4 linked regions of the Homo sapiens genome follow. The protein of the gene in region 3 interacts with the protein of the main gene of each other region in a pairwise test. Each region holds a gene or a part of one and is shown on either strand. Other genes may lie near its edges.

Evidence for each region.
Region 1: the proteins of EIF5A2 (region 3) and NIF3L1 interact in binary tests that used the Homo sapiens proteins (3 or more experiments, as listed by UniProt).
Region 2: the proteins of EIF5A2 (region 3) and SDCBP interact in binary tests that used the Homo sapiens proteins (3 or more experiments, as listed by UniProt).
Region 4: the proteins of EIF5A2 (region 3) and DHPS interact in binary tests that used the Homo sapiens proteins (3 or more experiments, as listed by UniProt).

What each region holds. Positions count from the first base shown.
Region 1 is NC_000002.12:200,898,756-200,904,999, reverse strand, and holds the end of NIF3L1 (NIF3-like protein 1), read right to left. Parts: intron 5,616-6,244; coding exon 5,532-5,615; intron 1,507-5,531; coding exon 1,322-1,506; 3' UTR 1,075-1,321; downstream 1-1,074. UniProt on the Homo sapiens protein: May function as a transcriptional corepressor through its interaction with COPS2, negatively regulating the expression of genes involved in neuronal differentiation.
Region 2 is NC_000008.11:58,562,354-58,570,542, reverse strand, and holds part of SDCBP (syntenin-1), read right to left. Parts: intron 5,525-8,189; coding exon of another isoform or gene 5,510-5,524; coding exon 5,459-5,509; intron 1-5,458. UniProt on the Homo sapiens protein: Multifunctional adapter protein involved in diverse array of functions including trafficking of transmembrane proteins, neuro and immunomodulation, exosome biogenesis, and tumorigenesis.
Region 3 is NC_000003.12:170,897,847-170,906,035, reverse strand, and holds part of EIF5A2 (eukaryotic translation initiation factor 5A-2), read left to right. Parts: intron 1-8,189. UniProt on the Homo sapiens protein: Translation factor that promotes translation elongation and termination, particularly upon ribosome stalling at specific amino acid sequence contexts.
Region 4 is NC_000019.10:12,678,399-12,686,818, forward strand, and holds the start of DHPS (deoxyhypusine synthase), read right to left. Parts: upstream 3,483-8,420; 5' UTR 3,369-3,482; coding exon 3,162-3,368; intron 2,973-3,161; exon of another isoform or gene 2,716-2,972; coding exon of another isoform or gene 2,635-2,715; intron 1,928-2,634; coding exon 1,763-1,927; intron 1,525-1,762; coding exon 1,403-1,524; intron 1,322-1,402; coding exon 1,225-1,321; intron 1,146-1,224; coding exon 1,059-1,145; intron 1-1,058. UniProt on the Homo sapiens protein: Catalyzes the NAD-dependent oxidative cleavage of spermidine and the subsequent transfer of the butylamine moiety of spermidine to the epsilon-amino group of a critical lysine residue of the eIF-5A precursor protein to form the intermediate deoxyhypusine residue.

The sequences.
Region 1 (6,244 bases), on a different chromosome or scaffold from region 3:
AAAGGCGGCAGTAATGGAGAAAACATAAGTGAAAGATGCCGGACACAAAGGACCACATGTTTATGATTCCACTTATAGAAAATATCCAAAATAGACAAATCCATAGAAATAGGATCCAGGGGATGGGAGGAGGGAATTATTACTTAATGGGGGCTTCCCTCTGTGGTGATGAAAAATGCTTTGGAACTGTAGTGGTAACAGTACCACAACACTGTAAATGTACTAAAAGCTACGGAATTGTATACTTTAAAATGGTGAATTTTGGAAGGGGGGGGCAGGAAAATAAAATGGCGAATTTTATGTTATGTGAATTTTACCACAATAAAAAATAAACAAAAAGAGAAAAAGTTGCTTTACACAAAAGCATGAAGTAAAAATTACATGTGGTATGGTAAAATAGCACAAATCATAAAAGCAATCTAAGAATGCCTAAAATGGAGGGAATATTGCTTTAGCCAGATTACCTGAGAACGCAGTCCTCAGGTGGAGAAAGGTGTATCTGCCCTGCCCAACCAGCAGCAGGCAGGCAGGGGCCTCGCAGCCCAGCGCAGGTGCTGTTTAGAAAGGGGCATCCACATGGATAAAAGGCCCAGATTAAATGGGGCAGGATGATATTTTGAGATATCTGACTTTGTTCTTTCTGCTCTGGAATTTCATTCCCTGGCCCTGCCCCCTGCCTGCGGCAGCCAAGTTCATTGCCAGGAGAGGGAAGTGACAGAGCAGAAATCGGGAACAAAGGACTGTGGAAGAAAAAAAAATTACAGGTAAGTCATCTAAAAAGCAATAAAGTAACAGTAATATGAATAATGATTGTGTATACATATTTTCAAAACAACATCCTGATAAATCTCATTCTGATTCTGAAATTTAGGTGAGAGACTGGAATGTAGGCAGAACTAGGAACAAGGACAAACAGAACTTCTTATCACTGCAAAAAGGCTACTACCTAGAAGTGTTCAAGCCCAAGTTTTTCAAGCATAATGTTAACTAACCAAGGGCAGAGATACCCAAATGGATCCATCCCATCTACAATTAAACTAAGGACAGAATCACTTGAGCTCCTTCCAAAGAATGTTAAGTAAACAGATTTTATTCAATCTTTCCTAGAGTTTATAATGAACATTTGTTATTTAATATGGTAGTTATATTACAGTTTTACCTTACGAGCGATAGAACATTTGGTGAATAAGATTAACAAACCGGAAATGATGATACCCTCGAAGACACTCTCTGGAAGCACACCAGTCCCACTGACTCATGTTACAAATTTAAGTTGGCATCCAGCTGATTTGTAGAATGTGTTATCCTGATGTTTCTGCAATTATACCACCTGAAGAGGGTCCCTGTCAGTCTCTGATAGGATAATATTTATCTTATTCTCCAAGTGAGAATCCAGCATATCTCGAAGGTCAGAAAGAAAGCCTCGTTCAGTGTTGCTGTGTTCACAGAGGATGACATTTATTCCTTGGGAAGCAGCATCCAAAGTATCATGATGGGACATCTCACCTACCAAAAAGGGAAGAGCAAATTCTTAAATGCTAAATATGGAATCTGTGGAATGAGGAAACACAAAAGCAGAAATACCAAGTTTGTAGTCTATATGAAGTGAATGTAATAGAGCAGAACTGTTTTACATATAAATCTAGAAAGTAGTGTACAGTTTTCTTTTATGTCCTCCAACTTAAAAAGAGAGAAAAGTCTGGGCGCGGTGGCTCACGCCTGTAATCCCAGCACTTTGGGAGGCCTAGGCAGGCAGATCACCTGAGCTAAGGAGTGCTAGACTAGCCTGGCCAACATGGTGAAACTTCCATCTCTACTAAAAACACAAAAATTAGCTGGGCGTGGTGGTGCGTGCCTGTAATCCCAGCTACTCAGGAGGCTGAGACAGGTGAATAGCTTCAGTCCAGGGCCTGGAGGTTGCAGTGAGCCGAGACTGCACCACTGCACTTCAGCCTGGGTGACAGAGTAAGACTATCTTGAAAATATAAAAATAAAATCCATCCCACTGAGAATTCCAACTTCTTTTTCCTTAGCAGACCCCAAGGCAATTATCCAATCCAACATATCTGGCCAGAACCAGATCTGTAAACACCCATTCAAAGTGTTTCCACGGTAAAATGAATGATCACTGCCAAGTAAAATGAGGCCTTCAGAAAATTTGCCTCTTATGTAAGTAATAAATACCTCTGGAGGAAATTATATGTATACTGCCCAGCAGACTTATGCTTTGTAAGCACCAGTATTTCTGTCGTCAACTTAGTCTAATATATAAGGATGAAATGAATTTAAGATTACTTCCAGGTTAAAAACAAAGTATTTTTCTTTGACTTAAGCAAAATCCCTAGAAACTCTGGAGGGAATCTCATCTGTTGTGAAAAGATTTGGGGAAAATTCATATTCTGAATTTTTAATTTATATTGTTAATTTTTTTTTAGATGGAGTTTTGCTCTGTCACCCAGGCTGGAGTACAGTAGCACGATCTCAGCTCACTGCAACCTCTGCCTCCTGGGTTCAAGTGATTCTCCTGCCTCAGCCTCTCGAGTAGCTGGAATGACAGGCACCCACCACCATGCCTGGCTAATTTTTGTATTTTTAGTAGAGATGGGGTTTCACCACGTTGGCCAGGCTGGTCTCGAACTGCTGGGCTCAAGTGATCTGCCCGCCTCAGCCTCCCAAAGTGCTGGGATTACAGGCGTGAGCCACCATGTCCAGCCTAATATTCTGAATTTCTTAAAATGCAGTTTGTGAATTTGATGACTTCTAATTTAAGAGCAAAACTGTACTGTGTACAATTAGGTTTGTTCTTTAAAAAGTACAATTTTGAACTGTATTTAGAGACAGAAGGGCATATAAATTTAAGAAAAAAGGGTTCTTGGAAAAAAATGAGTTCTCTTTTAATTTTCCCATAAGAAAACACCTATAAGTAAAAAAATGAGTTTTCTTAATTCCAGAATTTTTTAGTTCCCCACAATCTCCTCCTAATAAGTGTCATCTCATTATAAGGAACAGTTTTTATTCAAGCACCTTTTAAAACATCTTAATCTATAATAGTAGAAGTAAAAAGCAAGAAAAAGACACTAAGATGGCCCAGTTGGAAGCCTTGTTTTAGGAAAGGTAAGTCTGGCTGCCTGTACTGTGACAAATTCATTGGCTGGAGAAGGCATGAAAGGGGGGAAATCAGTGAAGACCCTGCAATAATAGCTGAAGCCAATGGAAAGAAAAGCTTGGCCCAGGATGGCAGCTTGGGAAAGAATAAGCAAATGGAGAATGAAAAGACAAATGGGAGAACTTAATTTACAAGGAGCAGGCTCCCCATCTGCTGGTCTTACGGGGTATTACCCTTAACAACCTAATACAATGAGAACACGGCCTCAGGCTCACAGGAAGCGTGATGAAGTTCAGCAGAGGTCCTTTAGGTGGGGCTTCACATCTCTGAAGTTATACTCAAAAGTGATGCCTCACAGACCAGAGACAGCTAATGCTAGCCGGATAATATATTTTCTATTTCTCCCCACAGCCAGATAGGAAGGACATTTTAACATTTTGGAACTGCTTGAATTTATCTTATGCACGTATCATTATACTTTATCATTGTTTTAAAAAACTAGTTTTTAAAAAAGTATAAGGAAACAGATACCCCAAATTGAGAGAGAAGCACAAAACAAAGAGCCTATACTCTTTAAAAATGTCAATGCTATGGAGACAAAGCTGAGAAACTATTCCAGACTGAAGGAGACTAACAACAACTAAATGCAATGTGAGATCATTGGCTGGATATGGATCAGAAAAAGAAATGCTATAAGCTTTTATCAATTGGGAAAATGTGAATATGGACTGTATATCAAGTAAGTGTTTTAACAATATTAAATTCCCATGTTTGATAATTGTTCCATGGACTTAGAATGTCTTTGTTCTTAGACTATACACTGAAGTATTGAGAGGTAAAGAAATTGTCATGTCTGCAATTGATTACAAAATGGTCCTAGGGGAAATACATCAATATATATATAGAACATATTTTAACTTGTATATATTATGTATCTATACATGCAAACACAAATGTGTATAGACACATATATAATATGCACATAGGGAATGTACAAATATGGCAGAATATAACCATAGTAACCAAGGTGAAGAGCATATAGGAGTTCAGTATACTATTCTTGCAACTTTTGCATAGGTCTGAAATTCCTAAGTAAAATGCTAAAATGAATTTTAAAATAGCCAGACACAATACTGTAAGATATTCATATTGAAATTTCACTTTAATCTGGTAGAAATTTAAGGGCTTACAAAAATCTTTTATCTTCAGAAAATATAAAATAAGTAATAGTCACATACATGTTTTGTTTTTTTAAATCAATTTATTGGTTTAGAGCAATTCCATCAGGCTTGCTCAGATGCTGCTCCTCGGTACTTCAGGATGTGACAATGCTTTGAGTGCAGCAGCCTTTGTAAGAGAGTGTGCTATATAACAAAGTGTGGGTGTGGGAGGCAAGGGAAGCATGGAAGTAGCCAAAGGAATGGCCAGAGGGCTAAGAGCCTAGAGCCTGGTCCTCAAAGTGGGAAAAGTAATTCTTTAACTCATTCTCTCCTAACCCTAAGAAGGAGGAGGTAAACAAAGTGGCAACCCCTTAAAATGCCTCCAAATCCTTTGGAGGTGTAAGGGGCCATGTTTGGCCATATTCCTGAGTAGTAACTACATAAAGTAATTCTTTCAATAAAAATTAGCCAGGACCTATTAGGTAGTATCCTAAATGAGAAAGTATAAGGCCCAGCAGCCAGACAATTACTATCCAACAGAAGTGCACATTGGAGGTCAAGGACAAAGTGATAGGGACCCACAAGAGGCAGGAGCAGGACAGTGTCAGAGAAGGCTTCTCAGAGGGGGTGTTCACTTATCACTAGGAGTACAAGGAAAAGGCATTCTAGCCAGAGAAAACAGCATAAGCAAAGGGTACAGGAAAGGGGATGCAATGTTCAGGCTCCACCAGACAGATGAAGGAAATCACTGAAGTCTTTTTAATCAAGACCATCAAATTTGCACTTTGAAAAGTTAATTTCAGGAGAGTATATGGAAGATACCATTAGAGGGTTGATGCTGTACTTCAAGTAGGAGATGGTGCCTGGATAGAGATAAGGGGGAAGATTCTAGAAAGATTTGGGAGCTTGAATTGATAGGAATTGATGATTGGCTTTAGGCTGAGTAAAAGGAACCATTTCCTAGCTAAGGTGACAGGGTAGAAAGTATCCCACTGATGTGAAATCTGAGAGGTTTGGGACAGTTTAGGAAGAATGTAGGTAAAATAAATGCTGACCATTAACTTTTGAGATAATGTAATAAACTGTTCAATGATTTCATCCCTCCACAAAGAATGCAGTAAGTCCCCAGTTCTGTTGTAGTTTCTGTTTAGTTCAGGTTCAGAAAACATTAATTAGGTATCATCTATGTGCCAGGTACTGTCCTAAAATTTGCCATTTTTGATTTTGCAAAAAATAAACCAAGAGAGATCCAAAGTCTGTCCTACCTGTGAGGTAAAGGTCAGCCTCAACACCCTGCAGAACGCTGCTCCCAGAACCAGCACACAGGGCCACGACTTTGACTTGAGACTCTTCAAAACAGAGGAAACAAGAGACCAATACTTTACAATTCCCTTTCATTTTACTATTATAATTTGTACCAAGAATCCTAAACATAATACAGATTTCACTCCTGGTCTCATCACCAGTATATGAATTGTTCTTACTGCATTTTAAAAAAAACATGTTTTAATATAAGCAAACAGGTCATTCTTTGATATTGCATAGCTAACCCAAGGCATGGTTATTATTCCTTTGTTGTGTTTTTTTTTTTCAACAACCTTTGTAAATTGCGCAAAATACGGAACAATGCACAAATTTGCGTGTAATCTTTGCATAGGGGCCATGCTAATCTATATCATCCAATTTTTAGTATATGTGCTGCTGAAGGGGGCACCGTTATTCCTTTGGACATGGCTGCACAAACTCACAAACCACTGAATAGTACTAATGGTGCAGCTCTAGGCTGTATTGCAACAGTGCTAGGTAAAATAATCTCACCTGGGTCTTCAGACAACAGTGAGAGGTAAGCAAGTACTATCTCTATTCTCAGGTGAGGAAGCTAAGGAACTAAAAGGACTATAAAAAGAGGAATGCTACAAATGGATTTGGCACTATTTTTAAATATACTATTTATTCTCAAAAAGCATCCTCTGGAAAG
Region 2 (8,189 bases), on a different chromosome or scaffold from region 3:
AATTAGTCCAAGTAAAAATATTTTATTTGCATAAGAAAAAACCTTACCCATATTCATATAAAAGTCACATATCAGAAAAACACCTAAAAAATTAATACTAAGCATGTCCCACTGAAATCATCTTTATCTTCATTGCAGCAAGTATAGGAAGGGGTTTATGCTAAATACTTTTAAAATATCAGAAATTATGAAAATAGCACAGTTTATCACTGACATAAATCGATGATGACAAGGTAATGTAATTTGTAACTGTTAAACAAACTTGCCAAAATCACTCTGACACACTCTGACACTCTAGCATTTATCAATGCTACTCATGCTCAAGTATCCTCTTCTCAGGGCTGTCTTGATGGCCTACATCATATGAAGTATCTCACTGATGGAAATACTTTATCCTTTACAATTAGATCTGACTTTCTGAAATAGCTATATGTCATTAGAGACAAGTTTGGTAATAAGTTGTATGACCAATCTCTACCAACTTTTTACTTTATTGGAAATGTATCATTTTAAAAATGAAGTTCATAGTAGTATCTCAACCTAGCCCTAAAATCAATGTCAAGAGTATTCCCAAAGATGCTTGGAGATATGAAAGCTTAGTTTAAATAAGTAAAGCCTATGAAAGCTTTGAATGGTACTAAAATTATATGTTCTGATATACTTGTTGAGTCATCCTTTAATATTTATTATTTCATAATTTGTTAAACATTCTAGATTTAAACAAAATACAGCATGAAAATCTTTATAATTATAAATAACAATCCACAAATTGAACATGTGTTGAACTTTGAAAGTTCTTTCACCACCGATTAGCTAAAAGGAGCTAGTGGCTTGTTATATTACTTCTTGAATCATGTCTAACAAAAAAAATACTGTGCGGCACTGGGAAAAAAAAAAGAACTATAAAGACATGAAAAGACATGGAGGAAACTTAAGTGGATATTACTAAGTGAAAGAAGCCAATCTCAAAAGGCTACATACTTTATGATTCCAACTATACGACATTTTGAAAAATGCAAAATTGTGGAGATAATAAAATATTAGGCCAGGCACAGTGGCTGAGGCCTTTAATCCCAGCACTTTGGGAAGCTGAAGCTGGAGAGTTGCTTGAGGCCTGGAGTTCAAGACCAGCCTGGGCAACATAGGAAAACCCTGCCTATGCAAAAAATTGTTTTGGCCAGGCACAGTGGCTCATGCCTGTAATCCCAGCACTTTGGTAGGCTGAGGTGGGCAGATCACCTGAAGTCAGGAGTTCAACTGACCAACATGGCATGTTGTCATGTTTGTCATGGCCAACATGGCAAAACCCTGTCTCTAGTAAACATACAAAAATTAGCCGGGCATGGTGGTGGATGCCTGTTAATTCCAGCTACCCGGGAGGCTGAGGCAGGGAGAATTGCTTGAACCCAGGAGGAGGAGGTTGCAGTGAGCCAAGATCGCACCACTGCACTCCAGCCTGGTGACAGAGCCAGACTCCGTTTTGGGGGAAAAAAAAATTTTCTTTTTAAACTAGCTAGGTGTGGTGGTGCATGCCTGTAGTCCCAGCTACTTAGAAGGCTGTGGCAGGAGGATGGACGCTGCAGTGAACCATGACTGTGCCACTGTACTCCAGCCTGGGCAACAGAGCGACATCCTGACGCTAAAGAAAACACAAAAGCAAAAGCAAATTATTGGTTGCCAGGAGTTTCTAGAAGGGAAGGAAGAACAGGCATTAAAGAATTTTTCGAGCAGTGAACCTATTCTGTCTAATGCTACAATGGTATACAGTCATGTGCTGCCTGTTCTGGTCAATGATGAACCACATATACAATAGTGGTCCCATGAGATTATAAAAGAGCTAAAAAATTCCTACTGTCTAGTGACATCATAGCTGCCGTCACACAGAACAACTCATTACTTTGTGGTGATGGTGGTGTAAATAAGCTTACTGCACTGCCAGTCATATATAAAAAAGTATAGCATCTACAATTATGCATGGTACATAATACTTGATAATAATAAATGACTATGTTACTCATTTATGTATTTCCTGTGTTATACCCTTTAGAGTATATCCTTCTACTTACAAAAAAAGTTAACTGTAAAACAGTCTCAGGCAGGTCCTTCAGGAGGTATTCCAGAAGGCACTATTACCATTGGAAATGACAACTCCATGCATGTTACTGCCTCTGAAGACCTTTCAGTGGGATGATGTGGAGGTGGAAGACAGTGATATTGATGATCCTGACCCTGTGCAGGCCTAGGCTAATGTGAGTGTGTGTCTCAGTTTTTAACAAACTTACAAGCGATTTTTAAAAACTAAAAATTTAAAAAATAGGAAAAAAGCTTATAGAATCAGGATATAAAGAAAGAAAATATTTTATACAGCTGTACAATGTTTGTGTTTTAAACTATGTTATTACAAGAGTCAGAAAGTTAAAAAATTAAAGTTACAGGAAGCTAAGGTTAATTTATAATTCGAGAAAGAAAAATTTTTAAATAAATTTAGTGCAGCCCAAGTATAGAGTATTGATAAAGTCTACAGCAGTATACAATAATGTCCTAGGCCTCACATTCACTCACCGCTCACTCACTGACTTACCCAGCGCAACTTCTAGTCCTGGAAGCTCCATTCATGGTAAGTGCCTTATACAGATGTACCATTTTAAATCTTTTACATTGTATTTTTACCATACCTTTTCTGTGTTTAGATACACAAATACTATTGTGTAACAATTGCCTACAGTATTCAGTACAGTAACATGCAGTATTACTGTATCATACAGGTGGGATCATACAGGTTTGTAGCATAGGAACAACAGACTATACCATACTGCCTAGATGTGTAGTAGGCTATGCCATCTACATTTGTGGAAGTACACTCTATAATGTTTGCACGACAAAACTGTCTAATGAGGCATTTCTCAGAACATATCCGTCTTTAAGCAACACATGACTATATACACGTCACTATACATTTGTCAAAATCCACAGAACATATAACACCAACAGTGAACCCTAATGTGATGTAATGTAAATATGTAGACTTCAGGTGATATTAATGAGCCAGATGTACTGCTCTGGTGCAGATGCTGATACTGGGGGAGGTTGTGCATGTGTGAGGACAGAAGGTATACTGTACTTTCTGATCAATTTTGTTGTGAATCTAAAATTGCTCTAAAACACAGCTTATTAATTTAAAATACTTCTCCTTTGTATGTAGTTATGAATTTCTGTTCTTTCATTGCTATTGTTTTTAATCCAAGGAATACTGAAGAATACATATAGAAAGCTCCCTGCAAAGTTAAATTTAATTATGTTATTTGCAGTAAAAATGAAACAAAAGGATGTAACCCAATTTTAAGTACTGTAAACCATTAAATGTAGCTACTTATTTCAAACTTACTTTGAAATGTGACACTACTAAAAAAAGGGGTTGGGGTGCCCCAAGGAGCATGCCAGGGCCTATTGTTTCTGCCATTAACAGAAAGGATGTGGAAAAAACATGCTTGTAGCGTCACTGCTGCCAAATTCTGCCCACCATATTAGGAAACTGATAAGCTCTGGTTCTGTATATCATTATTTATTAAAAGCTTACTTTGCATAAGTAGAGGAAACCACAGGCTCTTGTCAGGATTTGGAATGGAGAGAAAAAGGTCTAGGGACTGTATGATGCTAAAAGCCACAGCCTAGTGGCTACTGCAGAATAGTTTACAAAATATGAATGGTTGGTTCATTGCTGTAATTTAGCTTTGCTGTGGTGTTAAAGGCCAGCAGATGAGAAAATGAATACTACCTTCCTTCATAATACCGTTTCAGGAGAATCTTAAGAATAAAAACAAACATGAGTATCATCCACCTTAGAAAATGATGCAAAAAAACAAAACAAAACAAAACAAAAACAGCCAAAGAGTTTAATGGCTAAATTAGGAATATTTTTAAATTCAGGGGTAATAAAAGAACCATGTTTCCCACTCCTTATTCACTGTTCTATCTCCCAGCTGCTTTCTGCTCTGAACATAAAACGTTCTTTAATGTAAATATCTATGTAATTCACTTCTGCTTAAAGAGGGCAGCATGATACAGATTGTAGCCCTCTTTATTTTTCATTCCAATATTTGTCAATATCAACTCTTCTGCTGCTGCTGTTTTCAAAACCAAAAGCCTCAGCTCATATCTGACTATGGTGAATTTACATTCAATTCCATAAAAAGCTAACAAAAAAAGGATGAAAACAAAGAACAGATTAGTCATTCTTACAGGTCCATCTAAAAATCCTTATCAGTTAATGTATTGATGTCATATTAATGGCTAAGCAGTTATTCTGGAAAGCTAAATATTTCAGATAAAGGCCTTTTAAAAAGAAAAGTGCTTGTTTAGATGAACTATGTGGAAATAAAAACCACATGAAGAAAATACTGACAAAATACTAAAGAAGTGATAGGAACATGTAAAAGATGACTGAATAGGCCACTTGAAACTTTGAGGCATCAAAGCCTTGGCAGCTGAACTGTAGATTTTAGAGATTTTACAAACCTCATTTTAATATCCATACTGGATCTATGATAGAAAATAATTGTTCATAATTCAATTATCAGTAAGTAAATTGAATATCTCACTTTCTAGTAAATTGAAGACAGGGACCCAATAAAATGATCTTCAGGGTAAGGAGTTTTCGTTTATCTTGTCAAATTAAAACAATAAACAACGGCTGAAGAAATTCTAAATTGATAAGAGATCAAGTTGAAAGCTAACCGTAAACAAATTCATCATATACTACAAATTACCCCCAATTAAAATAATTACCAAAAATTTCCCAATTAGCCAGAATTGGTCCCAATTCCTCACTTTGTTCTTAAGCAGAAGCATTTGTCTTCAAAGCTAATACTTATACAAAGGAGTATAAAAATTTTCAACTCAATGCAATTAGAAATACTGCAATCTCTACACAGTCATTTAGAGAATGAACAAGTGAAATGTCTGCTGCTCATCTCTCAAAGGAAAGAAATCACTACACTTTCCCTGTGCTCTTACATGACTGCTCTTCTAAAAGCAGCATGTACGCCACTATTTCTGTAATTTTAACTTCAGTTAAGAGACATAGAATTAAAGAGTGGTCATACCTAAAGATCCAAAAGAAAAATATACCAATTTTATACAAAACTATGAATATCTACAAAATTGGAGTATATTTTGTCAACTCAAATATGTTACATATAATTAAATTTTAACCAGAAATGTAAAAAGTGTAAGTCGAATTAAAAAAATCTCATGCCTATTAATTCACAGTGAAATGAAAAAAAAAATTGCTAATTTTTCTGTAAACTTTTCAGTCTGCAATTAATAAAACTAAAAAAAGGTTTATGAAGTGTAAAAATGAACAAATATATCTGCTATTTAGCTATCTTGCTTTATTTCACCTATAAGTAGAATGCATGTTACTGTGTTTGTTTTGACAAAAGTATTTAAACTATCATACCTGAATTACTTTGTCTACCTTCAAGTCTTCGAGAGATGGATAGAGAGACATTTTTGCAGGATTCTTCTAAAGAAAAAAAGAAAGTTTTATTACTCTAATGTCATAGAAATTGAAATAGTATACACAGCTAACCACAGACACATAAACAAGTAGAACTATTTAACTCAATAAAAAACATTTAAATTGCAAAACATATTAAAAAATAAGAATATATAGGCCATACTAAAAGTTAGCTGATACTTAAGAATTACCAAACTACCTCTCCTTCCCCTAATAGTATTATTGAACTATATCCATCACCGATTTTTAAAATTCAAGTAAAAGTCCCTTCATTTTACAAATTTAGAAAATCAAATAGAATAGTTATGTGACTTACTCCTAACTTACACAAGTACTTGCAACTTAGCCAGGACTAGGAAACTACCCTTAGTACAATGCCCTTGGGCATTACACAGCTACATTTCCTTCTAACAATAAAAGCCTAAAAGCAGATCATATGCAGTATCAATACATGAACCTCTATTACTAAGAAAAATATATACACACATATATGTATACAGAAGAAACTATATCAACTGCTAACAGATTTTTCTTCAGAAGACAGATGGTAAAGGAGTGAGGAATAAGAGGGAAATTTTTACTTTTCATTTAAAATACTTCTGTATTAAGTAGAAGTATGTTTTTTAGTTATAAATTGCTTTTTGTAATAATTTAAAACACAATTCTCTAAATGTATTATATGAATGCATATTTTAAATTTTATTTAGCTGTTTTGAGATGAATACCTGATACTTTCACTCAACCCAATAAAACAGAATATATGCTAAACTGGTATGTGGTTTAACGTAAGATTCTTGATTCAGGTATCAATTTATTACCTCCCATTTCCAAATCCACTTCTTATTGCTTTCTCTCCCAAAATGGAGCTGAGCTCTTTCAACATTGCTCTGTTACCAGCTGGCATGATGTTAAGCCTTGTCAGTAGAGGCAACTGGAGGTACACTGTAGGAGGAAGAGCTTTTCTCTTCATGGTTCCAACGTACTACTCTAGCCAGACTCCTGCCAGGAGTAGTTTCACAAGCATGCAGAAGCTCACCCCAGCACTCTATTGAGTAACTCTGCAGCAGAATGCCACCACCAAGGAATCTCCCTGAGCAGCTTTCTCAACCCCTTCACGTGGCTTCTGCAGCAAATTCCAAGGTTCAGAATGCCAGAGGGAGAATAAGTTCCAGAAGCATGGTATCCGGCAACTTCAGCATCTGCCAGTGACATCTGTCCCCTCTTCAACCAGACCTGAATCTCAGCCCCAGTATGGGAACAGCCCTAGAGTTAGTGGCTACTTATTAAGTCTGCTCTTACAGTATTCTTAAAAGTTGTCTTTACTTCTTACAAGTCAATTTCTATTTCTTCAATCATGTTATAACTAGTAATTCTGTGTATTAAACCTCCACTGTTAAAATCACTATATGGTCTCTGTCTCCTAGTTGGACAGTATGAGATAGTTTTTTTTTTAAATTTAATTCACACACTCTAAAATTCAGCCTTTCAAAGTATATAATGCAATGGTTTTTAGTATATTCACAGACTTCTACAATCATCTCCACTACCTATCTTTGAATATTTCCATCCTCCCCAAAAGAAAACTCATGCCTCCCCATTCTACCCTCCTTCCAGCTCCAGGCAACATACACTTTCCCGCCTCTGTTTTTACCTGCTCTGGATACTTAATCTAGAATCTTAGAATATGTGGCCTTCTGCATCTGGCTTCTTTCACATAGCATATGTTCAAGGTTCATCTGTGTTGGAGCATGTATCAGTATTTCATTCATTTTCATAGCAGAATAATATTCCATTGTATGTATACCACATTATATTTATGCTGTCATCAGCTGATGACATTTGGGTTATTTGCACTTTTGGCTATTATAAATAATGCTGTTAAAAATGCCAATGAGCATTTGCATTGTTAGCAAATAATATGTAAGTTTATATACTTTTTTAATAAATGCATCTTTAATTCTCTTGGAATATAGCTAAGCATGCAACTGCTGGGTCATATGGTAACTCTAATACCATCCCCTTGATGATTACAGGATTCAACATATGAATGGAGGGACACAGTCACAAACATTCAGACCATATCATAGACCACTATCATATATGATTTACAAATACTTTTCTTATTCTGTAGATTGTCTTTTCATTTTTTCTCACAGTGCATTTTGCAATATGAGGTTTTTAATTCTGACAAATTTGAATCTATATTTCTTCTTGGTTGCTTATGCTTTAGATATAACATCTAAGAAACTACTGCCCAACTCAAGGTTATGAAGACTTACCCTTATGTTTTCTTCAAAAAATGTTATGTCTTTAATTCCTGCATTTATATCTTTGATCTATTTTATGTTAATTTTGTACACGGTGTGTGGTATAGATCCATATTCATTATTATCCATGTGGAAACCCAGTTATTTCAGCACCATTTTTTGAAAATAACATTTTTGAATTGTCTTCGCATCGTTATTGAAAAGTGATCATAACTGTATGCACTTATTTCTGCAATCTCAATTCTATTTCACTGATCTATATGTCTATCCTTATACCAGTACCACACATTCTTGAGTACTGTACATTTGTATTAAGTTTTAAAATCAGTTAATGTGAATCCTCCCACTTTGTTCTTTTTCGAAATTGTTTTGGCTATTCTAAATCCCTATCAATTCAGTATCAG
Region 3 (8,189 bases):
TTGTCCACATGCAAACATACTTTTTTGTGGTTTTAATCTAGTAAACACTTTTATATTTTCACTTTCCTACTTGTCATAAATGTTTTCTAGGTTGCTTTGAAGTCTTTGTAGAAATTTGAATTGTCTTGCAAGTGGGTTTTTTTAACCAGGTAGATCTGGGTTTGGATCTAGTTCTGTCACTTTCTAGTTGGATGATTTTGGACAAGTTATACACCTTTCTGAGCCTGTTTTCTCATCTACAAAATAGTGATAATAGGAGGATTAAATGAGAAAATGTACCCCATTAAGAACTCCATAAGTAGATACGTACCAAAAAGTGCTGTTCTGTTTCCCCCTTTTCCTATGTAAAAATTCTACTTAATCATTTCATTATTGTTGGAGCACCAACTTTGATGTGGTACATAGTAGGTGCTCGAAAAATATTTGTTAAATGTATATGTGATTACTGAATGTGGTAGAGATAGTACAGCAGGCTAAAGTTGAGCGTAGAATGTTGTCAAAATTGGGTTTCTCTTTTCGTCTTAAAGTATGAAAGCTTTGACTATTCAATATTAATTATATTCAGTAATATTCATTCAATATAGAATGCTTTTGCCTGTTGCATGTTTCAGAAAGATGGTATCAGCAGTTCAGATAATTACTATTATACTATGATAAGGTTAGCCAGTCATTGATTGGAGCTCAAGACTTAAAGGAAAAATTTGGTTTGGGTCCTAGACTAGGATGAGGCAAATGAAGTGAGGGAGGCTCTTGCCTCAGGCACAAAATTTTAAATAAAGACAGAACTAGTAACAATGACAAGCCATATAGGAGCTCAAGGCGCAAAGAAAATTAATTCTGATCCCATCTTTATTTAGAATTTTGGTATTTTATCATAGGATTTTTGCATTAATTCTAATTTTTTAAAATATTGCATTAAAATGCCTATCTGATCACTGAGGTTTTTTTGGTGCCTTCTTTAATTTTGCACCCAAGACAAGTGTCTTACTTCACCCTTGTCCCAACCCTTGGTATGTACTCCGCACTGCAAAGTGGATAAGAGGATGATTTAAGCCAGGCAGGCCTGGTCCTAGTCTTACTTTGGCACTTAATAGCTGTGTGACCTTGGTTGACAAGTTACTTAACCTGTTTTGCTTCCATTTCTTTCTTTATAAAGCAGAGACATAAATAATAACGCCTCATGGGATCATTTTGAGGTTTAATTAGTTAATACAACAACGCCTGGCATAGAAAGTATTCAGTATTTCTCTGCTCTTCATTTTCAAGTCAGCATAGAAAAATAACTTATTTCTGTTAATTGTTTAAAAAACTAGTTCTCCAACCTGGGCAATGTGGTGAGACGCCATCTTTACAAAATACAGAAAAAAAAAAATTAGCGAGGCATGGTGGTGTACACAGCTGTAGTCCCAGCAGACCCAGAGGCTGAGGTGGGAGGATCACTTGAGCCTTGGGAGGTCAAGGCTGCACTAAGCTGTGATCACTCCACTGCACTCTAGCCTGGGCGACAGAGTGGGACCCTGTCTCAAAAACAAAAGTTCTGTGGGCCTTTCTATTTATATTTATTGTGCTATGGTGGTCTTCACTTACCTAACCAAGTGCCTTGATTAAATATCTACTCATTATTTGGCGTGTGTAATCCTTTATGTTTGCTGAATTCAATATTTTGAGTGCCAGTTCGGCAGTTGGCTAAAGAGAAATATGTATTCTGTTCATTATGATAATTAAAAAGTAAACAGGAAACAAAACGTATTAATATTTATAGTTTTAATTTTATGTGTTTTAAAATAAGTTCAGAATGAAAGAAAAATTGTCTCCTAACTTCTCTTTCAAGATTAGCTTGGATTAGAATTGCTCATTTACATTACTTCTCCCAAAAGTAGTTATAGATGTCCGGGACTGAGTGATGTTGAAAATTATAAATGCATCCAGATAGACCTTTGGGAATCCCCAAATTCATACAGAAATGCTTATTCAGACTTTAGCACTCTCTGGAATCATATTTCTTTAGAAAGTTCTGTGTTGATATGAACTTCACCACAAGTTAAATGCCGTTTCTGCATTTACTACAGTTTTACCTGTCATTTGAAAACCATTTTCCAGAAGGAAGACTAATTACTATAGACACATAAAGTATATATTGTAGACCTTTGGATTATTAGTGAATTGCCAAAACTGTGACTATTAAATTCTAGTATATTCTTCAAATAAGTAGTATATTATTTGAATGTTTAGATATGTTAATTGAATTCAAATAAGTAGTATATCATTTGAATGCTGAGATATGTTAATTGAATTCAAATAAGTAGTATATTATTTGAATGTTTAGATATGTTCATTGAATTCCTTGAGCTTAAAGTCTTTTTATAATTTTTACCTGTTTCATGGGAATCCTTGTGTTCTCAGATGGAAGCAGTCTTTCTTTGGAAATAGAAAACCTCTAAAGCAATAGGGCCCAATGTTGCGAGGACTAGAAGCAAATATTTGTTACAGGATCATTAAGGGTAATCATGAGAAGAGCCACTAACTTTAGTTCCTAGACCTGTGTATTCTACCTATAGGAAAAATAGCATCATATATTGAAATATATTGTAACCTGCAAAAAACAGCACTCCAGGCCAACAAAGTACCATTCAGCAGGTGCCATATTTGAGTCTTCACTAGGCTGATCCACAGAGGCAAGCTGTTTTGGAATGATAGGGTACGTGAGCCAGCGAATTATCTGGGTGTTGCACTGCCTTGTTACTTTGCCTGTAAAATTAGTTTTCTAGTCAGAAGTGATGCAGTGTGAGATACTATGACAGGAACGAGGCATTCTGTAAATTGAGATGAGATTTTAGCAGAAGCACTGCAGGCAAGAAAGGCAAATCCATATGCAGAGTAAAACTATTGCAATAAGAAAAAATTGCTGCCTGTTTCATGATGGAAGGGGTACAGTCAGGTGGCCAGCTGTTCTGGGAAACATATTAAGACTTCTTGTTCTTCTGTTCTGTGTTCTTCTTCTGCCATATCAAGACTGACCTGTTTCTGTGAGGTTTTCAGTAGTGGCTGTAGTCAGATCAGTCTTGGTGAGAGAAAGCCCGTGTCATTGATCCCACTGAGCAAAGATGAGAGAAGCTACAAAAAGAAGCTGAGGCCGGGCACAGTGGCTCACACCTGTAATCCCAGCACTTTGGGAGGCCAAGGCGGGCAGATCACGAGGTCAAGAGATCGAGACCATCCTGGCCAACATGGTGAAACCCCGTCTCTAATAAATACATAAATTAGTCAGGCGTGGTGGTGCATGCCTGTAATCCCAGCTACTCAGGAGGCTAAGGCAGGAGAATCACTTGAACCTGGGAGGCGGAGGTTGCAGTGAGCTAAGATCCCGCCATTGCACTCCAGCCTGGGCAACAGAGCAAGACTCCATCTCAAAAAAAAAAAAAAAAAAAGGAAGGCTTCTGTACATCTCTACAAAAAATACAAAAATTAGCCGGGTGTGGTGGCAGGCACCTGTAACCCCAGCTACTTGGGAGGCTGAGGCAGGAGAATCGATTGAACCTGGGAGGTGGAAGTTGCAGTGAGCCAAGATCACACCACTGCACTGTAGCCTGGTGACAGAGCAAGACTCGGTCTCAAAAAAAAAAAAAAAAAAAAAAAAGGCTGAATGGCATTCACACATTAGCTCATAATCAGTGCAAATCCACACTTCTGGTTCTGTCTTCTTTCAGGTCCAGTGCTTGAAGTTCTTCCCAAACCCACTTTCAGGTTGACCCCTGAATGGTGTCATCATATAATGCATAACCATCTAGAAACCATTGTGAATATTTTCCTTTCTCAGTCAGCTGGTCATAGGCAACTGTCCATCTAGTCATTGGTATCAGTTGAAGGAGAAGTGTCAGTGTGGTAAGACAAAGTGTTTTCTGAGTCTGAGCCACTTCTTATACAACTTGTTTGTACCTTTAGGTCCTTCTCAAGCTGATCTCATATATGCTACTTCCACTCAATGATGGAGAGCTGCTGTGCGTTCCCAGTTGTGTGGCTTGATGGGTCAGATGATGGGTCAGGTTATGGTGGTGTTATTTGCTTAGGCTGTACAATAATAGTGATAAAGCATTCAGTCTCTCAGATCACTGTATAATAATAGTGATCAAGCATTCAGGGACCAGCAACTCTAAGGAAGTAGCACAAGAGTGCTACACTCTGGGGGAAAAGAAGGAAGAAATAAAAAGGAATAGGTGTTACCTAAACAAGTCTGGTTGTTTTGAAATAGATTGAGAAACAAAATTAAATTCAGAAATTAGAACTAAGAAGGCACCTGTCCAGGCACTGTGGCTCACGCCGGTAATCCCAGCACTTTGGGAGGCCGAGGCAGGCGGATCACGAGATCAGGAGTTCGAGACCACCAGGGAGGTGGAGGTTGCAGTGAGCCAAGATTGCGCCACTGCACTCCAGCCTGGCGACAGAGCCAGACTCCATCTCAAAAAAAAAAAAAAAGAAGGCACCTGTAGGGATAATATACCTTCTCCAGCCTTCTGTTGTATATCAGTAGTACAAATGCAGGCAAAATAGTTTCCCAATAATTCCCCCTTTTCAGTGTTCTTTCCTATTCTGACTACATCTAAGACAGAATCTGCAGTCATTAACTCTCCCCACACTCCCTTTTAGATCATGTTTTGCTTCCTTAGCTTACTGTGCCTCCCAGCACTTAGTGGTTACAGTGCTTATTCTAGAATTCATATATACTATAGCATTTTTTGTTTCACTTTTTATTGTGGAAATTTTCAAAGTATAGTATAATGAATCCTGTGTACCTGTCACTCAGCTTCAACAATTACCAGTGTGATTAATTCTGTCTCTGCAATTTTTTGACAAAGACACTGGATCATTTCTTCTGTAGACTTTCCCACTGTATGGATTTTGCTAATTGCATTTCCTTGTTTTTTAACATGTTCCTCTGTCCCTTGTGTTTCCTGAAACTTGGTAGTAAGATATAGAGTCTTAATCAGATTCAGTTCAGATTTTTATTTTCTTCCTTTCTTTCCTTTAGCAGGACTACTCCATAATGTTCTATGCAATCATTAGATAAATAAGTCTGATTGTTTCTCCTTTTGTGATATTATCAGATATGTGAATACTGCCTCAACATATTAATTGGAGGAGAAAAAATTTATGATCTGTCATTCCTTCATTTGTTTCTCTTAGCCAGAATACTTCTATAAAAAGAAACTTCCCTTCATCAATTTTTGTTTGTTTGTTTGCCTTAAGAGACAGTACCAGTGTCTGTGCGTGTAGCGGGGGTGGGTGTATTTGACTCTTTCCCTTTAAGGTACAGTTTATAAAATAAATTGGTTCCTAGCATCCACTAAAGATGATGAAATACATATTTTTTTCATTATAAACTCGAGCATTTAAACATATTTGTGTTTCAATCCATTGTTGTTAGTGTCCTTATTTATTCTCACATTGTTCCATCTTGGCCAGTGGGAGCTTATTCAAGTTAGCTCTTGAGTCCCTTTGACATGGGCCTAATTTTAATTCTCCTTGATAGCTCCTTGCTTTTTAGTACAACAGCTTCTCCAGGTTCATCTTACACACTTCCTGATCTGGACCTGGAATTATGCAAGGAGCCCTAGAATATTTTAGTAGGAAATAAAAAATACCCCATTCTTTTTTTTTTTTTTTTTTTTTTTGAGATGGAGTCGTGCTCTGCCACCCAGGCTGGAGTGCAGCGGCGTGATCTCAGCTCACTACAACCTCTGCTTCCTGGGTTCAAGTGATGCTCCTGCCTCAGCCTCCCAAGTAGCTGGGACTCCAGGTGCCATCACATCTGGCTAATTTTTGTATTTTTAGTAGAGACGAGGTTTTGCCATATTGGCCAGGTTGGTCTCGGACTCCTGACCTCAAATGATCCGCCTGCCTTGGCCTCCCGAAGTGCTAGGATTACAGGTGTGAGCCACTGCACCCAGCCAAAAATACCACATTCTGATAGCCTTATAACCTTATATACTGCTCAGGAGCTTGGTACGCCTCCACATGCCTAACATCTCTAAAGTTTTTTGACCCTCACCTCTGCTGTCTCCCTGCTTGCTACTAACAATAATTACTTTCTACCAAAAAAAAAAATGTTCAAAAACATCTAAAAGTGATCAAATCAGTAGGTTTGTTTAAAGGTAAAGGACCAGAAGAAGATACTTACAACAATTTCCTTACCATCCCCACCTTCCAACTCTATGGAGTCAGAGAGGCCTTTGAGAGAAGATAGAAACATTTGCACAAAAATATGCTTGGGGACTTGACGATGACACTGTTGGCTTTTTTTTTTTCTTAAAGCTTGCAAATTACAAAGGGGGAAAGTGTAACTTTGGAGTGGAAAAATCTGGCAGATAACTACCTTAGTCAGCATATCAAAGTTGGCATCACTTGTAATGGGACAAATTGACATTTGCCTCCTGATAGGATACTCTGAGGACACATCATTTGTATAGTATTCCTTTCAAAAATGCATTACCTTTATCATGAGGAAACAGTGAGACAAACACAAACTGAGGAATATTCTATAAAACAGTGAACCCCCAGGAGTTTGAGACCAGCCTGGGCAACACAGGAAGACCCTGTATCTACAAAAAATAAAAATTAAAAAAATAAAAAATAAAAAAAATCCCAACAGGCATAGTGGTTGTATGCCTATGGTCCCAGTAACTCGGGAGGCTGAGTTGGGTGGATCACTTGAGCCCTGGAGGTTGAGGCTGCAGTGAGTCATGATCATGCCACCACACTCCTGCCTGCATGAAAGAGCAAGACCTGGTCTCAGAAAAACCAAACCCCCCAAAAAACAAAAAGATACCATGAAAGTTAAAGGGTGGAGGAAACTGTTAGAATTAAGAGACTAAACTGACATGATAGCCAGATAAATACAAGGTATGACCCTGGAGTTAGGGAAATAAGTTGCTATCCAGGACAATACTAGGACAATTGGCAAATTTAAATATGTACTATATATTGAATAATAGGTTATCAATATTAAATTCCCTGATTTTGAAAAATAAATTGTTGTTATCTAAGAGTATATCCTTGTTCTTGAGAAAAATACACTGAAGTTTTAATTGCTGAAAAGTCATGGCTGTTGCACTGAAGTATTTATTGCTGAAGAATCATGATCTTTGGAACTTACTCTCAATAGTTCTGTAAAAATAATAAGAATATATATGATATATATATATATTGGATGTATACATAGAGAAAATAGTGCACATGTGATTAAATGTGAACAATGGATGTATCTAGGTAAAGGATATGGGATTTCATTGCATTATTGCAACTTTTCTATAGAACTTAAGATTTTTTAATAAATAATTCAATTTAAAAGATTGTATTAGTCCATTTTCACACTGCTATAAAGAACTACCTGAAACTGAGTAACTTATAAGAAAAGAGATTTAACTGATTCACAGTTCCACATGGCTGGGGAGGCCTCAGGAAACTTACAATCATGGAGGAAGGTGAAAGGGAAGCAAGGCATGTTTTATATGGCAGCAGGAGAGACAGCAAGCAGGGGGGATCTGTCAAACACTTTTAAGCCATCAGATCTCATGAGAACTCACTTACTATCATGAGAACAGCATGAGGGAAACTGCCCCCATGATCCAATCACCTCCTACCAGGTTCCTCCCTTGACATGTGGGGATTATAATTCAAGATGAGATTTGGGTGAGGACACAGAGCCAAATCATATTATTCTGTCCCTGGCCCCTTCCAAATCTCATGTTCTCACTTTCAAAACACAATCATGCCTTCTCAACAGTCCCTGAAAGTCTTAACTCATTCCAGCATTAACCCAAAAGTCCAAGTCCAAAGTCTCATCTGAAACAAGGGAAGTCCCTTCCGCCTATGAGCCTGTAAAATGAAAAGCAAGTCAGTTACTTCCTAGAAACAATGAGGATACAGGCATTGGGTAAATACTGTTATTTCAAATGGGAGAAATTGGCCAAAACAAAGGAGCTACAGGTCCCATACAAGTCCGAAACCTAGCAGGGTAGCCATTCAGTCTTAAAGCTCCAAAATAATCTCCTTTGCCTCCATGTCTTACATCCAGGGCACACTGATCCAAAAGGTAGGCTCCCAAGGTCTTGGGCAGCTCCACCCCTGTGGCTCTACAGGGTACAGCCTCTGCAGCTGCTTTCACTGGTTGGTATTGAGTGCCTGTGGCTTTT
Region 4 (8,420 bases), on a different chromosome or scaffold from region 3:
CAAGACAGCAGTGAGCCATTATTGTGCCATTGCACTCCAGCCTGGGAAACAGAATGAGACCCTGTCTCGTAAAAAAGAAAGAGTAAGTAGGCTGGGTGTGGTGGCTCACCCCTGTAATCCCAGCACTTTGGGAGGCCAAGGCGGGTGGATCACTTGAGGTCAGGAGTTCAAGACCAGCCTGGCCAACATGGTGAAACCCCATCTGTAGAAAAATACAAAAATTGGCCGGGCATGATGGTGGGTGCCTATAGTCCCAGCTACTCAGGAGGGTGAGGCGGGAGAATCACTTGAACCTGGGAGGTGGAGGGTGCAGTGAGCTGAAATCACACCATTACACTCCAGCCTGGGCGACAGAGCAAGACTCTGTCTCAAAAAAAAAAAAAAAAAAAAAAAGACTATGTAGCTTTTTTTTTTTTTTTTTCAGGTTCTGATTCTCTAATTAAAGGGAGTGGGTAGCTCTTATTTTATAGCATCTGGGAGTGTGGGACCCTGAGCCAGGCCCCAGGAGAGTTGCTAAGTGTTGCCTCTACTGTTCCAGAGATAGTCTGGGAGGAGCATAAGGATGCTGAGGCCCCACTAGTTATCTGTGTGACTTCAGACAAAATTACCTAGCCTGGCTGGGCACAGTGGCTCACGCCTGTAATCCCAGCACTTTGGGAGGCCAAGGTGGGAGGACTGCCTGACGCCAGGAGTTCAAGACCAGCCTGGGAAACACAGGGAGACCCCCATCTCTACAAAAAATTTTTAAAATTAGCTGGGCATGATGGCATGTGCCTGTGGTCCCAGCTACTCGAGAGGCTGAGGTGGGAGGACTGCTTGGCCCCAGGAGGTTGAGGCTGCAATGAGCTGTGATCACACCACTGCACTCCAGCCTAGGTGACAGAGCAAGATCCTGTCTCAAAAAAAAAAAAAATTACCACGCCTATCTGTGTTTGAGTCTCCTCATCTAAGAGTGAGGATGCTGAGAATAACAGTACTGAATCCCCAGGAGGCTGGAAAGATGAAATAAGTTAACACATGCCAAAGTCTGGCTACTTTGCTCCCGCTTAGGTCCTCACCTTCTGGGCCCAGTAATACACGGACTCTGGGTTGTTGATCTCCTTGCCCAGCCGGGCGATCATCTTAGAAGGCGTCCACTTTACACCCTAGGAGAGGATGTGACCTTCAGGCCATGCCTCCCCTGACTCCCACTGAACTGGCCCCTCCAGGTTGCCCCAGCCCCACCTCTGTGTTCTGCTCCATCACCATCTGGTCCAGAATGGGCATCAGCCAGTCCTCAAACTTGCAGTAATTCTCATTGGGCACCAGCAGGTTTCCGATCCTGAGAACAGGAGGCATGTAGGCATCAGGCCCCAGGACCCTTGGTCCAGCTCCCCTGCCCAACACCACTCAGGGTTCTCACCTATTGATCCCGTTCTCCCGGAGCTCCTTCCCCCTGAGGCTAAACTCGCCCAAGTATGTGGGCGCCAGGCACTTGATGAGGTCTTCCTCCACGCCGCCAGCTGTGGTCACCAATACGTCCACCTGCAGCCACAAGGCAGTGAATTTGGCCCAAGAAGGAAGCCCCTGCCCTCATTCTGGGCAGAACTTCTAACCTCATCCTTGTCCAGTGACTCTTATGAGGGAGCTCTGCTACAAAACAAAACTTGATTCTATTCCTCTGCTTATAACAGACCCCTATCTGCCCATCTCACTTAAACGATCAATAACTGCATTGCCCATTGACCCAGAGGCCAAGGCCACGGCCTCACCAGGTCCCCACCATGTTGTGCTGCACAAGGTAGCGAATGGTCTCACGGATGCCTGAACTGATGAGGTTGGATGTATATCCCAGGAAAATGGTGCAGCTGGTAAGTGGGCGGCGGCTCTGGGTCAGGTCCGCGTGCTGGTCTTCATCCTGTGACAGTGGTTCCAGCTTCTTCTCGATCTGTGAGTAAGGGCCAAGTCAAGTTAAGCACTGGCCTTAAATCCCAGACTCAGGACTCCAGGTGGGCTCCAGAAACAGATTTCACCCCAGGCCCTGCACATTCAGGGATACAGGACCAGTTCTACAGGGGACCAAGGAACATCTCCTGTGTAAACTCTGCCCCTTCCCAGACCAGATCTCAAGACACACGTTCAGGATTTGCCCCCACCCTTTTTTTTTTTTTTTTGGACGGAGTTTCACTCTTGTTACCCAGGCTAGAGTGCAATGGCGCGATCTCGGCTCACTGCAAGCTCCACCTCCCGGGTTCAAGCGATTCTCCTGCCTCAGCCTCCCGAGTAGCTGGGACTACAGGCGCGCACCACCATGCCCGGCTAATTTTTTGCATTTTAGTAGAGACGGGGTTTCTCCATGTTGGTCAGGCTGGTCTCGAACTCCCGACCTCAGGTGATCCGCCCGCCTCGGCCTCCCAAAATGCTGAGATTACAGGCATGAGCCACCGTGCCCGGCCTTTTTTTTTTTTTTTTTTTGAGACAGAGTATCGCTCTGTCACCAGGCTGGAGTGCAGTGGCGCAATCTCAGCTCACTGCAACCTCCACCTCGCGGGTTCAAGCGATTCTCCTGCCTCAGCCTCCCGAGTAGCTGGGACTACAGGCGCGCAACACCATGCCCGGCTAATTTTTTGCATTTTAGTAGAGACAGGGTTTCACCATGTTGGCCAGGCTTGTCTCGAACTCCTCTTCTCTTGATCCACCCGCCTCGGCTTCCCAAAATGCTGGGATTATAGGCATGCGCCACCGCGCCCAGCCAGCCCCCACCCTTTTAGGAATCAGAGAGCATCTCCTTTCAGATCCGGTCCCTTCCCCGCTGGGAAAAGCAAATCTAAATTCAAGAACCGCCCAGACTTAGGCTCCTCCTCCCATATCCTCCCTTAATTTGTCTTGCCCCAGGCTCCGCCCATTCCAGAAAGCTTTAAATGTACCTAGAACCCGCCCCCACACCAAGAATCAGTCCTCGCCTCCTCAGGTTACCGTACCAGCATGTAACTACCAGAGTGCAAAATCCCCTTCCCAGGACAGAAACTCCCGCCCAGAATAGGTCCCGCCTTCCTCCAACTATTGGGCAACTCAAATAAAAGACATATCCCCTCCACTGGAAACGCTGCCCCCGTCTAGTACCGCGTTGGTTCTACAAGCCACGCCCCTCCGCGTCCCTAGAAATTCCGCCCGGTCCTCACCATGGCATTGACTTGCTGTACAGCGCGCCCGAAGTTGGTTGCTTGGAAGCCGGTGGTGCCGAAGGCCTCCAGCAGTGCGCGGTAATTCACACCGCGGTTGAAGTCGTAGCCCCGGACCTGGGTGCTTTCGGGCGGCAACGTCGAGCTGTGCTTTAGCACGGCGGCCAGCGCCCCCGCTGGCGCCTCCCGTTCCAGGGAACCTTCCATGCGCCTATAGCCGGCTCTCGAGTCAAAGCTGCCCCTAGGCCGGGCTTACGGCGGCCCAGAAACGCGTTAAACCCCGACGCGCGCGTCTCCGCAAGAGCACAGGAAGTAGGGAACGTGCTTTGGGCGAAAGACCGGAAGTTGGTTTATCACGTGACCATTTTTAGCCCCTGTAAACCAGGTCGCCGCCATTTTTGTGCGTGTGTTCCGTAATACGGAAGCCGCGAGGAGCCTTTAGGCCCTTTCTTTCTTTTTTTTTTTTTTTTTTTTTTTGAGACGGAGTCTCGCTCTGTCACCCAGGCTGGAGTGCAGTGGCGCGATCTCAGCTCACTGCCAGCTCCGCTTTCCGGGTTCACGCTGTTCTCCTGCCTCAGCCTCCCGAGTAGCTGGGACTACAGGCGCCCACCACCACGCCCGGCTAATTTTTTTGTATTTTTAGTAGAGACGGGGTTTCACCTGGTCTCGATCTCCTGACCTCGTGATTCGCCCGCCTCGGCCTCCCAAAGTGCTGGGATTACAGGCGTGACCCACCGCGCCCGGCGCCTTTAGGCCTTTTCTTCCTTTTTTTTTCTTTTTTTTTTTTTTGATACAGGGTTTCGCTCTTGTTGCCCAGGCTGGAGTGCAATTGCCCGATCTCAGCTCACCACAACCTCCACATTCCGGGTTCAAGCGATTCTCCTGCCTCAGCCTCCCGAGTAGCTGGGACTACTGGCATGCACCGCCATGCCCGGCTAATTTTGTATTTTTAGTAGAGGCGGGGTTTCTCCCTGTTGGTCAGGCTGGTCTCGAACTTCCGACCTCAGGTTATCCGCCCGCCTCAGCCTCCCAAAGTGCTGGGATTACAGGCGTGAGCCACTGCGCTTCGGCCTTTACTTGTTTTCATGTGTTCTCGACTTCCCATGAATGAAGATTCTTTTTTATTTTTATTATTTATTTATTTAATTTATTTTTGAGACAAGAGTTACACGCTCTTGTTACGCAGGCTGGAGTGCGGTGGTGCAATCTTGACTCATTGCAACCTCTGCCCCCCTGGTTCAAGCGATTCTCCTGCCTCAGCCTCCCGAGTTGCTGGGATTACAGACACCCACCACCAGGCCTGGCTAATTTTTTATTTTTAGTAGAGATGGCATTTCACCATGTTGGCGAGGCTGGTTCTGCCCTCAGGTGACCGCCCGCCTGGGCTTTCCAAAGTGCTGAGATTACAGGTGTGAGCCACCGTCCCCAGCCAAAATTCCTATTTTAATGCCACCTGCTGGAGACCCACTGCTTGGCCCGGCACTCGCCCATTCGTTTCTGTTCTGTCCCCTCGGGAGGGGAGGATGGTTTTGTTGTTGTTGTTGCTGTTTTGTTTGTTTGTTTGTTTGAGCTAGAGTCTTGCGCTGTCTCCCAGGCTGGAGTGCAGTGGCACGATCTCGGCTCACTGCAACCTCCGCCTCCCAGGTTCACGCCATTCTTCTGCCTCAGCCTCCCCAGTAACTGGGACTACAGGCGCCGGCCACCACGCCCGGCTAATATTTTGTATTTTTAGTAGAGACGGGGTTTCACCGTGTTAGCCAGGGTAGTCTCGATCTCCTGACCTCGTGATCCGCCCGCCTCAGCCTCCCAAAGTGCTGGGATTACAGGCATGAGCCACCGCGCCTGGCCTGCTGCTATTTTTTGATAGGGTCTCACTCTGTCGCCAGGCTGGAGTGCTGTGACGCGATCTCGGCCCACTGCAACCTCTGACTCCCGGACTCAGGTCATCCTCCCACCCCAGCATTCCGACTAGTGTGCACCATCGTGCCCAGCTAATTTTTTTATGAGGGTCACTTTTTTTTTTTTTTTTTTTTTTGAGACAGAGTCTCGCTCTGTCGCCCAGGCTGGAGTGCAGTGGCGCAATCTCGGCTCACTGCAAGCTCTGCCTCCCAGGTTCATGCCATTCTCCTGCCTCAGCCTCCCGAGTAACTGGGACTACAGGTGCCCGCCACCACACCCGGCTAATTTTTTCTGTTTTTAGTAGAGATGGGGTTTCACCGTGTTAGCCAGGATGGTCTCGATCTCCTGAACTCGTGACCCGCCCGCCTTGGCCTCCCAAAGTGCCAGGATTACAGGCGTGAGCCACTGCGCCCGGCCGAGGGTCACTTCTTAAGCGTCACCCATGGACAAGATTTCGGTCACCAGGCAGAGTTAGACACAGTTTCATCCTTCCTCAGCCACTTTTGTCTAATGGGATAGTGAGCCCGGTTCGTGCCCTCACAAGTCTCCAAAGCCTTCACATGCTGCATAACGCTCTGTTCTTCCTTCCCTTATAGCTGCAGCTGTCACCTCCACCTCCTCTGGGAAGCCTTCCCTGAACTCCCACTGGGTCAGTGGCCTCTTCTGGGACCCAGGGCTGACGTCTCTTTCCCTCCTGCAAGAATGTGAGACCCTGGGTGTCATCTGTATCTCAAACACACCCTCCTAACAGTGCATACGGCCAACAGGATTATTCACTCACTCTACAATTCATGTAGTCTATTCTCTATGGTGGGCTCCGTGCTAGGCACTAAGGATTTAGTGGTGAACAAGACCAAGATGTGGACCCTGCCCTACTGGAGCCCACAATCTGATTGGGAAGATAGAAAGTTAACAATAGTGGTGAGTGCTATCAGGCCTTTTTTGTTTTTTGTTTTTTTTGGAGACAGAGTTTCGCTCTTGTTGCCCAGGCTGGAGTGCAATGGCGCGATCTCCACTCATCGCAACCTCTGCCTCCCAGTTTCAAGCAATTCTCCTGCCTCAGCCTCCCGAGTAGCTGGGATTACAGGCATGAGCCATCACGCCCGGCTAATTCTTGTATTTTTAGTAGAGATGGGGTTTCACTATGTTGGTCAGGCTAGTCTCGAACTCCTGACCTCAGGTGATCTGCCTGCCTCGGCCTCCCAAAGTGCTGGGATTACAGGTGTGAGCCACCGCGCCCAGCGCAATCAGGATTTAAACAGGATAATTTGAGTCTTTAGGTGGAGGAGTTCGGGATTTTAGTTGGAGGGATGGGTGAAGGACGCCAAGGAGGTGAGATTTGAGCCAAAGCCAGAAGGCTGAGAAAATCCCCGTATGTGAAGATGCAGAGAGGCCATTTCCTGCACATGGGAAGACAGAACAGCAAAAGCCGTGAGGCTGGAATGAGCCTACCTTGTTGGAGGAGACAGACATCCTCCTTGACATCCTCGCTTGGACCTCAAAGTTGCCCCCTCAGCTCCCTCTCCACCTATCCCTGATCTTTCTGCATCTCAGCAAACGGCCCCACCCTCCACTCATCCACTAGACTGAAAAATAGGGATTGGGGCTGGGCGCGGTGGCTCACACCTGTAATCCCAGCACTTTGGGATGCCAAGGAGGGCAGATCACCTGAGGTTAGGAGTTAGAGACCAGCCTGGACAACATGGCGAAACCCCGTCTCTACTAAAAAATACAAAAATTAGCCGGGTGTGGTGGCGCACACCCATAATCCCAGCTACTCAGGAGGCTGAGGCAGGAGAATCACTTGAACCCGGGAGGTGGAGGTTGCAGTGAGCTGAGATGGTGCCACTGCACTCCAGCCTGGGCAACAGAGCGAAACTCCGTCTCAAAAATAGATAAATAAAAATTAAAAATGAGGAGCGCAGCTTGCTGTCTCCCCTTTTCTCACACCCCACATCCATCCTTCTCAGCATGTCTGCCAACCTCTACCTATAAAGTAGGTCCGAAATCCAGGTGTTTTCTTTATCCCCATAGCCTGCAAGCTGGCTTTGGTATCCTCCAACCCATCTCCCACCTAACAGCTAAAATCAGAGAGCTTTTTTTTTTTTTTTTTTTTTTTTGAGACGGAGTCTTGCTCTGTCGCCCAGGCTGGAGTGTAGTGGTGTGATTTCGGCTCACTACAAGCTCCACCTCCCGGGTTCACGCCAGTCTCCTGCCTCAGCCTCCCAAGTAGCTGGGACTACAGGCGCCCGCCACACGCCCAGCTAATTTTTTGTATTTTTAGTAGAGACGGGGTTTCACCATGTTAGCCAGGATGGTCTTGATCTCCTGACCTCGTGATCCGCCCACCTCAGCCTCCCAAAGTGCTGGGATTACAGGCATGAGCCACCGTGCCCAGCCGCTGAGCTTTTTTTTTTGATGCAGGGTCTCACTCTGTCACCAGGGCTGGAGTGCAGTGGGACAATCACACCTCACTGCAGCTTCGACCTCCTGGCCTCAAGTGATCCTCCCACTTCAGCCTCCCCAGTAGCTGGGACTACAGGTGCATGCCACAGCTCTTTAACCATAAATCAAACATGTCACTGTTAAAACCTCCTAATGGTAGCTTCCCCCTGGGAGTAAAATCCAAGCTTTTCACAGTGGCCTTAAAGGGCACCTCTCAACCTCCCTGCTGCCATCTCCCACCATGCTGGCCCTCCCTCCCTCTCTCCTCTCCAGCTACACAGACCTCTTTGCTATTCCTGGAACCCACCAAGCTCTTTTTTGTCCAAGGAGTCAGGTACTTGCCGCTCCTTCTGCCTAGAACACCCCATTTCTCAGTTCCTTCTCCTCCTTTGGGCCTAAGTTCAAATGTCACCTCCTCTGAGAGGCCTGCCCTGACCACTCCTCTCCCCTTTACTTTGATTTTATTCTTCTTTCATATGCCCTTTCACATGTATACTCTTTCACTGAGTACATTTTCTGTTGTCCATCCCTGCCTAACTAGAAAGGCAGCTCCATGAGGGCAAGGTTTTGTCTTGTTTCATTGCTAATTTGGGTTTTTGCACAGTGCTGGGCACATATTAGAATCTCGGGGCAGGGCTCAGTGGCTTATGCCTATAATTCCTTTGGAAGGCCAAGGCAAGAGGATCGTTTGAGGCCAGGAGTTCAAGACCAGCCTGGGCAACATAGTAAGAACCATCTCTACAAAAAGTTAAAAACATAAATTAGCAGGGCACGGTGGCTCACGCCTATAATTCTAGCTAATCAGGAGGCTGAGTTGAGAGGATCACTTGAGCCCAGGAGTTTGAAGTTACAGTGAGCTATGATTGTACCACTGCACTCCAGCCTGGACGACAGAGCGAGAACCTGGGCTTAAAA